2 separate regions of the Homo sapiens genome follow, and region 2 is linked to region 1. The links come from fine-mapping of genetic effects on gene expression. A gene starts in region 1. The other region holds a variant in brackets. All regions are shown on one strand. Distances are from middle to middle. Region 1 holds the start of MRPL49 (mitochondrial ribosomal protein L49). Region 2 has its middle 17 kb from the start of SPDYC.

Evidence for each region. PIP is the estimated chance that this variant, and not a neighbour inherited with it, causes the effect.
Region 2: its variant is fine-mapped to the expression of MRPL49 in whole blood (INTERVAL, PIP 0.92).

Annotation. Positions count from the first base shown.
Region 1 is chr11:65,119,897-65,124,284 of GRCh38, reverse strand. It overlaps MRPL49 (mitochondrial ribosomal protein L49), which reads right to left and starts at 1,964. Exons shown (of 4, transcript NM_004927.4): 1 at 1,861-1,964. The coding sequence starts at 1,938. FAU (FAU ubiquitin like and ribosomal protein S30 fusion) reads left to right here and starts at 2,151. Exons shown (of 5, transcript NM_001997.5): 1 at 2,151-2,195; 2 at 2,464-2,546; 3 at 2,641-2,785; 4 at 3,249-3,304; 5 at 3,479-3,655. The coding sequence starts at 2,472. The coding sequence ends at 3,604. RefSeq lists enhancers at 1,674-1,943, 2,104-2,193.
Region 2 is chr11:65,151,402-65,155,789 of GRCh38, reverse strand. No RefSeq gene overlaps it. Among named protein-coding and RNA genes, the nearest start is that of SPDYC, 17 kb to the left of the region's middle. RefSeq lists a silencer at 2,897-3,076. The variant C/T (reference allele first, on the strand shown) is at 1,601.

The sequences.
Region 1 (4,388 bases):
TGGGCACAAATACTTAATAACAAGAACTACCACAAAAGACTGCAAAAACCACAGCCTTGCACAAAGGCCACTTCAACCTTACACAAAAAAATATTTCTGGCTGGGCAAGGTGGCTCACGCCTGTAATCCCAGCACCTTGGAGGCTGAGGCAGGAGGATCATCTAAGGTCAGGAGTTCAACACCAGCCTGGCCAACATGGCGAAACCCCATCTCTACTGAAAATACAAAAATTAGCCGGGCATGGTGGTGCATGCCTGTAATCCCAGCTACTTGGGAGGCTGAGGCAGGAGAATTGCTTGAACCCAGGAGGTGGAGGTTGCAGTGAGCTAAGATCGCACCATTGCACTCCAGCCTCGGTGACAGAGCGACGAGACTCTCTCAAACAAAACAAAACAAAACAAATTCCTGCATGGCCATCTGTCCAACAACTGCCTGTCCAATCTTGAACTGGCACCACCCATGTTATTCATCCTTGTAGCCAAGGATAACTGTCTCAAAACAATTATGTAATACTCATTTTTCCTTTCCTTTATTTATTTTTATTATTTTTTTAGATAGAGTCTCACTCTGTCACCTAGGCTGGAGTGCAGTGGTGTGATCTCGGCTCACTGCAACCTCCGCCTCCCAAGTTCAAGCAAGTCTCCTACCTCAGCCTCCCAAGTAGCTGGGACTACAGGCACACGCCATCACACCCGGCTAATTTTTGTATTTTTTCTAGAGACGGGTTTCACCATGTTGGCCAGGCTTGTCTCAAACTCCTGACTCCAGGTGATCTACGCGCCTTGGCCTCCCAAAGTGCTGGGATTACAGGCGTGAGCCACCGTGCCTGGCCCATTTTTCTGTTAAAAACCTTTGTCTTCTTTTACCTCCCTGATAAGCACATAGTCTATACCCATTCCCGAATAAATATCCTTTTCTTTTAGAGTCTGTTATTTAGGTTGACATAAGATAGCACCAGTCTTTGGTTTTCCATGGTGCAGGGTACAGATGGGATGGAAAGGAGGCTCAGGTACTCTGAATGGTCTGCCTCTCAGGATTTCTGTGGGATGCAAAAGAGTATATGTACACTTCTGAAAAGTCAATCAAGCCTTTAGAAACTTAAGGCTTAACTTTCTGTCTCGGTTTTAGAAATAGATATTATTATATTGGCAGCGTGGCCTTGTTTGTACCTCCATGATTGCCTGGCTGGCCTTGCTAACCTAATCACATCTGTGACGGGATATAGTGATGTTTAATCTTATGATTGCCTTAAGAATTAAGGCAATCAGACGGGTTCGGCGGCTCATGCCTGTAATCCCAGCACTTTGGGAGGCCGAGGCGGGCGGATCACGAGGTCAGAAGATCCAGTCCATCCTGGCTAACAAGGTGAAACCCCGTCTCTACTAAAAATACAAAAAATTAGCCGGGCATGGTGGCGGGAGCCTGTAGTCCCAGCTACTCGGGAGGCTGAGGCAGGAGGATGGCGTGAATCTGGGAGGCGGAGCTTGCAGTGGGCCGAGATCGCGCCACTGCCCTCCAGCCTGGGCGACAGAGCGAGACTCCGTCTCAAAAAAAAAAAAAAAAAGAATTAAGGCAATCATAATTCCCCACGCACACTCATATGCTAGGACCCCGCCCCTTACCTGAAACGTTGTGGCTTATATAGACACTGCCAGGCACTGTGTTAAGTGCTCCCAAAGAGCACCCCAGTCTACCATTTTCCCTCTCGATTCTATATGTACACTCGGGACAAGTTCTCCTGATCGAAAACGGCAAAACTAAGGCCCCAAGTAGGAATGCCTTAGTTTTCGGGGTTAACAATGATTAACACTGAGCCTCACACCCACGCGATGCCCTCAGCTCCTCGCTCAGCGCTCTCACCAACAGCCGTAGCCCGCAGCCCCGCTGGACACCGGTTCTCCATCCCCGCAGCGTAGCCCGGAACATGGTAGCTGCCATCTTTACCTGCTACGCCAGCCTTCTGTGCGCGCAACTGTCTGGTCCCGCCCCGTCCTGCGCGAGCTGCCTGCCCAGGCAGGTTCGCCGGTGCGAGCGTAAAGGGGCGGAGCTAGGACTGCCTTGGGCGGTACAAATAGCAGGGAACCGCGCGGTCGCTCAGCAGTGACGTGACACGCAGCCCACGGTCTGTACTGACGCGCCCTCGCTTCTTCCTCTTTCTCGACTCCATCTTCGCGGTAGCTGGGACCGCCGTTCAGGTAAGAATGGGGCCTTGGCTGGATCCGAAGGGCTTGTAGCAGGTTGGCTGCGGGGTCAGAAGGCGCGGGGGGAACCGAAGAACGGGGCCTGCTCCGTGGCCCTGCTCCAGTCCCTATCCGAACTCCTTGGGAGGCCTGGCCTTCCCCACGTGAGCCGCCGCGACCACCATCCCGTCGCGATCGTTTCTGGACCGCTTTCCACTCCCAAATCTCCTTTATCCCAGAGCATTTCTTGGCTTCTCTTACAAGCCGTCTTTTCTTTACTCAGTCGCCAATATGCAGCTCTTTGTCCGCGCCCAGGAGCTACACACCTTCGAGGTGACCGGCCAGGAAACGGTCGCCCAGATCAAGGTAAGGCTGCTTGGTGCGCCCTGGGTTCCATTTTCTTGTGCTCTTCACTCTCGCGGCCCGAGGGAACGCTTACGAGCCTTATCTTTCCCTGTAGGCTCATGTAGCCTCACTGGAGGGCATTGCCCCGGAAGATCAAGTCGTGCTCCTGGCAGGCGCGCCCCTGGAGGATGAGGCCACTCTGGGCCAGTGCGGGGTGGAGGCCCTGACTACCCTGGAAGTAGCAGGCCGCATGCTTGGAGGTGAGTGAGAGAGGAATGTTCTTTGAAGTACCGGTAAGCGTCTAGTGAGTGTGGGGTGCATAGTCCTGACAGCTGAGTGTCACACCTATGGTAATAGAGTACTTCTCACTGTCTTCAGTTCAGAGTGATTCTTCCTGTTTACATCCCTCATGTTGAACACAGACGTCCATGGGAGACTGAGCCAGAGTGTAGTTGTATTTCAGTCACATCACGAGATCCTAGTCTGGTTATCAGCTTCCACACTAAAATTAGGTCAGACCAGGGCCCCCAAAGTGCTCTATAAAATTAGAAGCTGGAAGATCCTGAAATGAAACTTAAGATTTCAAGGTCAAATATCTGCAACTTTGTTCTCATTACCTATTGGGCGCAGCTTCTCTTTAAAGGCTTGAATTGAGAAAAGAGGGGTTCTGCTGGGTGGCACCTTCTTGCTCTTACCTGCTGGTGCCTTCCTTTCCCACTACAGGTAAAGTCCATGGTTCCCTGGCCCGTGCTGGAAAAGTGAGAGGTCAGACTCCTAAGGTGAGTGAGAGTATTAGTGGTCATGGTGTTAGGACTTTTTTTCCTTTCACAGCTAAACCAAGTCCCTGGGCTCTTACTCGGTTTGCCTTCTCCCTCCCTGGAGATGAGCCTGAGGGAAGGGATGCTAGGTGTGGAAGACAGGAACCAGGGCCTGATTAACCTTCCCTTCTCCAGGTGGCCAAACAGGAGAAGAAGAAGAAGAAGACAGGTCGGGCTAAGCGGCGGATGCAGTACAACCGGCGCTTTGTCAACGTTGTGCCCACCTTTGGCAAGAAGAAGGGCCCCAATGCCAACTCTTAAGTCTTTTGTAATTCTGGCTTTCTCTAATAAAAAAGCCACTTAGTTCAGTCATCGCATTGTTTCATCTTTACTTGCAAGGCCTCAGGGAGAGGTGTGCTTCTCGGGTTGGTGGTATGTCCCCTAGGAGAACAGTGAGGCAGAAAAGGCAGAAGCCTTTGGTATGGGGGGAAGAAATGGTAAACTACAAGAGAAATTTCCTGTGAAGAAACAGCTACAGATCCTGGGGGGCTTCAGATGTAAAATTGGGGTTATTCCCTATCCTAAGTAACTTGATCAGTCCCCCCAGGTCATTCTTTTTCATCTTCTAAACAGAGAAGGTAGCAGGAATCACTGTGGTGAGAGGTTTGTTATGGAGGCAGCAATAGAAGGGATGGGTGGGGGAAGAGGTTTGTATAGAAGGTGAACCTGGCCGTTCCCTGAACTTGGTACCAGCTGTGGCCTTAGAGTCCAGGGCAGGAATCTGGTCTGCCTTGGTTTTAGAAGTAAATATTATGTTGGGAGCATGGCCTCGTTTGTACCTCTGTGACTGCCTGGCCGGACTTGGTAACCTAATCACATCTGTGATTGGATATAGTGAGGTTTCAGTGTTCCCAAAAGTTGGGTTACCTCTGGGGCTGATTCAGGGTTCTCTTCTGGCAACTGAGCCTCCCAGCACTTCTGAACCCCACTTACTCATTCAGCTAAAGTTTCTGGACCTGCCAGTTCTTGAGAAATAGCATCCAACAGGGTAAAGCCCTTGGGCTGTGGACTTTGACTGCCTGAGTTTGGACCTTCTTTTTCTTCC
Region 2 (4,388 bases), 32 kb before region 1:
TGCTGGGATTACAAGGGTGAGCCACCATGCCCGGCCTGCCAAGTTTTATATTTATATTTTATGTAAGGAATACATATTAATTTAATACAAGTCAAACACCCCTAATCTGAAAATCTAAAATCTAAACTGCTCCAAAATCCAAACTTTTTAAGCACTGACATGACATATATAAAATTACCTTCAGGCTATGTGTATAAGGTGTATATGAAACATAAATGAATTTTGTGTTTAGACTTGGGTTCATTCCCAAGAAATCTCATTATATATGCAAGCATTCAAAAAAAAAATCTGAAACATATCTGGTCCCAAGCATTTCAGATGAGGGATACTCAACCTGTATATTCAAAAAGTTTGTAGAAAAATTGAATTAAAAGATAAAAATAAAAAAATATAGGCCGGGCGCAGTGGCTCACGCCTGTAATCCTAGCACTTTGGGAAGCCGAGGCGGGTGGATCACAAGGTCAGGAGCTCAAGACCAGCCTGGCCAAAACTATATATATAGTTTTATATACTAAAAATATAAAAATTAGCTGGGCACAGTGGCAGGCGCCTGTAATCCCAGCTACTCAGGAGGCTGAGGCAGGAGAATTGCTTGAACTCAGAGGACAGAGGTTCCAGTGAGCTGAGATGGTGCCACTGCACTCCAGCCTGGGTGACAGAGTGAGACTCCGTCTCAAAAAAATAAATAAATAAATAAAAATAAAATAAAAATAAAAATAAATAAACTTTGATTCTCAACATAACCTCCAACAAGATTAAGACACTTTTGTGAGCAATGGTATCATTGGGTCCATCTCTTTAGAAATGAGGATCCTGGGAATTTAACCATGTCAACACAGTTTTTTTATATTAACTAAAGAAAAATGGGTGCCCTCGGCTGGGCATGATGGGTCACACCTGTAATCCCGGCACTTTGGAAGGCCAAGGGGGGGAGGATCACTTGAGGTCAGGAGTTCAAGACCAGCCTGGCCAACATGGTGAAACCCCATCTCTACTAAAAATGCAAAATATTAGCCGGGTGTGGTGGCGTGTGCCTGTAGTCCCAGCTATTCAGGAGGCTAAGGAAGGAGAATCACCTGAACTGGGGAGGCAGAGGTTGCAGTGAGCCAAGATCGTGCCGCGGCATTCCAGCATGCGTGATGGAGCGAGACTCCATCTCAGAAAAAAAAAAAAAAAGAAAAGAAAAATAGGTGCCCTTTAAAGATTTTTTTTTTTTTCCAGGCCAGGAGCGGTGGCTCACGCCTGTAATCCCAGCACTTTAGGAGGCCAAGGCGGGCGGATCACGAGGTCAGGAGACCGACACCATCCTGGCCAACACAGTGAAACCCTGTCTCTACTAAAAATATAAAAAATTAGCCAGACGTGGTGGTGGGCGCCTGTAGTCCCAGCTACTTGGGAGGCTGAGGCAGGAGAATGGTGTGAACCCAGGAGGTGGAGCTTGCAATGAGCCGAGATCGCACCACTGCACTCCAGCCTGGGCAACAGAGCGAGACTCCGTCTCAAAAAGAAAAAAGAAAAAATTTAAATTTGTAATAGAGACAGGGTCTCACTTTGTCCACCAGGCTGGTCTTGAACTCCTGGGCTTAAGTGATCCTTCCAC[C/T]TTGGCCTCTCAAACTGTTGGGATTACAGGCGTGAGCCACCACACCCGGCCCCAGACATGTTATAACAAGTTAGTATGAGTTTATTTTGGTACCAAAAATTTTTGAAATTCATGCATTGTTTTTTCATAAGATGCATTTTCCATGAGCTTTTTGAAGAGCCCTTTTATATTTAGATGTATATAAAAATGAACAAGACCTTATAGAAAAATATAGTGTACCAAAACTAAAACAAATAGAAATAGAAACCCTGATTAGTCCTATAACATTAAACAAATTGAATAAGTAGACAAAGTCTTACCACAAAGAAAACTCCAGGCCTATATGGCTCCACCAGTAAGATTAACCAAACATTGAAAAAACAAATAATTCTATCTTGTATAAATTCTTCCAGAGTATTGAAGAAAAGAAGGACCTCCCCTCCACATGTCACAAGGGTAGTGTTCTTGACATGAAAACCTAATGGAGACTGCATGAGAAAGAAATACTGCAGGCTCATAAACACAGATGGAAAAATCCTAAGCAAATTATTAGCAAAATGAATTTGGTAATATATAGGAAGAGAACGCAGTGTGCCAAAGCTGGATTTATTCTAAAAATGCAAGGTTAGAGATGAGAAAACTGATGAATCTGATTTGCCCCCTTAACAGATTACAGGAGAAAATTGAACAATCTCAAGGATTGCAGAGAGTGCATCTTGCCATGTGCAGTGAACTAGACCCCACAAGTGCATATCACACCATGTAGTAGGGGACTTGAGGCAAGGAGCAGCAGGAGAGGCAGTGGCTGCGCAGAAAGTCCTTTGGGCCAGTTGTTGAGAGAGCATCTCGAGTTTGGGAGCCTTATCTGGAATGTGTCAGCTTTGCCCTAAATAAATAAAAATTACCCCACACTTTGTGGTTTAAATGAAAAAAAAAATGTATTATCTCACAGTTTCTGTAGATCAGGAATGTGGGAGCATTAACTTGGAGGTTCTGCCTCACAGTCTCTCGTGAGGTTTGCAGTCAAGATACTGGCCAGGGCTACCGTCTTCTGAGGGTTTGTGTGGGGCTGGAGGATCGCCTTCCCAGGTGGTTCACTTACACGGCTATTGGCTGGGGGGCCTCAGTTCCTCACCATGTGAACCTGTCCACAGGGCTGCTGAGTGTCTCATGACATGGCAGCTGGCTTCCCCAGAGCAAGAGATCCAAGAGACAGTGCAGACAGGAAGCCAAAGTGTGTTTGTGCCAGCTCTCCTAGGTCTCTCACCATCACTTTCATTGATTCTATTCTTTAGAAGTGAGTCACTAAGTCCAGTTTACATTCGCGGGAGGGGAGCGAGGTTCCATGTCTTGAAAGGAGGAGTATCAGGCCAGGCGCGGTGGCTCACACCTGTAATCCCAACACTTTGGGAGGCCAAGGCGGGCAGATCATGAGGTCAGGAGTTCAAGACCAGCCTGACCAACATGGTGAAACCCCATCTCTACTAAAAATACAAAAATCAGCCAGGCATGGTGGCACGCACCTGTAATCCTAGCTACTCAGGAGGCTGAGGCAGGAGAATCACTTGAATCTGGGAGGCAGAGGTTGCAGTGAGCCGAGATCGTGCCACTGCACTCCAGCCTGGGTGACAGAGCGAGACTCTGTCTAAAAAAGAAAGAAAGAAAGAAAGAAAGAAAGAGAGAGAGAAAGAAAGAGAGAGAGAAAGAAAGGAGGAGCATCTAGAATGCATGGACATTCCTAAAACCACCTCACCTGGGAGACTCAAGCCCTGGTTGAACCATCCTACTTGGTGCCTGTACTGGAATAAGAGGAAATCAGACAGCCAGAGGATTGTTTCACTTTCAACTCAGCTACAAAACTCCTTGGCCATTCATGTTCCCTGGCAATCACACTGCAGATGTCTAGAAACTTCGCATTTCCACTTTTTTTCTTACAAAAATGTCATTCAGAATCACATTTCCACTTTCTGAGGTAACTAATCACACCCTCTCCTCTCTCTGCAAAGCTCCAACATGACTTCTTTCCCTTTTTCTTTTTCTTTCTTTGCTTTGAGACAGGGTTTCACTGTCACCGAGGCTGTTTAGTGCAGTGGCTTGATCTCTGCTCACTGCAACCTCTGCCTCCTGGGCTCAAGCCATCCTCCCACCTCAGCCTCCTGAATAACTTGGACCACAGGTGCGTGCCACCAAGCCCAGCTAATTTTTTGTAGAGACAGGGTTTCGCCATGTTGCCCAGGCTGGTCTTGAACTCCTGGGCTCAAGCAATCTACCCCCCTTGGCCTCCCAAAATGCTGGGATTACAGGTGTGAGCCACTGCGCCCAGCCTCTTTCCCTTTTTCTTCTCCTCTATTTTACCTGAATCTGCACCTGTACACACTTTCTCTGCCTCCTCTCCTACTAGAATGGAACAGCCATCTTTCTCCTCCTTTCTTTTTTATTTTTATTTTTTTATACAGATAGGGTCTCACTATGTTGCCCAGGCTGGTCTCAAACTCCTGGGATCAGGTGATCCTCCCACCTCAGCCTCCCAAAGTGCTAGAATCATAGGCATGAGCCACCATGCCCAACCTCTCTCTTCCTTTCAAAGCTTCTGGGTCCTCCTCTTCTGCTCGACTCCTCTTCCTTCTTGATTTCTCAAAGTCATCACTTCTCTACACTTCTCTACGTGCTTCCTGGTTTATTTTTTGTCTTTAGTATTCTGTAAGCTTCATAAGGGAAGGGACTTTTTTCTATTTCATTTGCTAATACATTCATGACACTTAGAACAAGACCTGGTTCAAGGTGGGCACTGGATAAATACTTGGGTGAA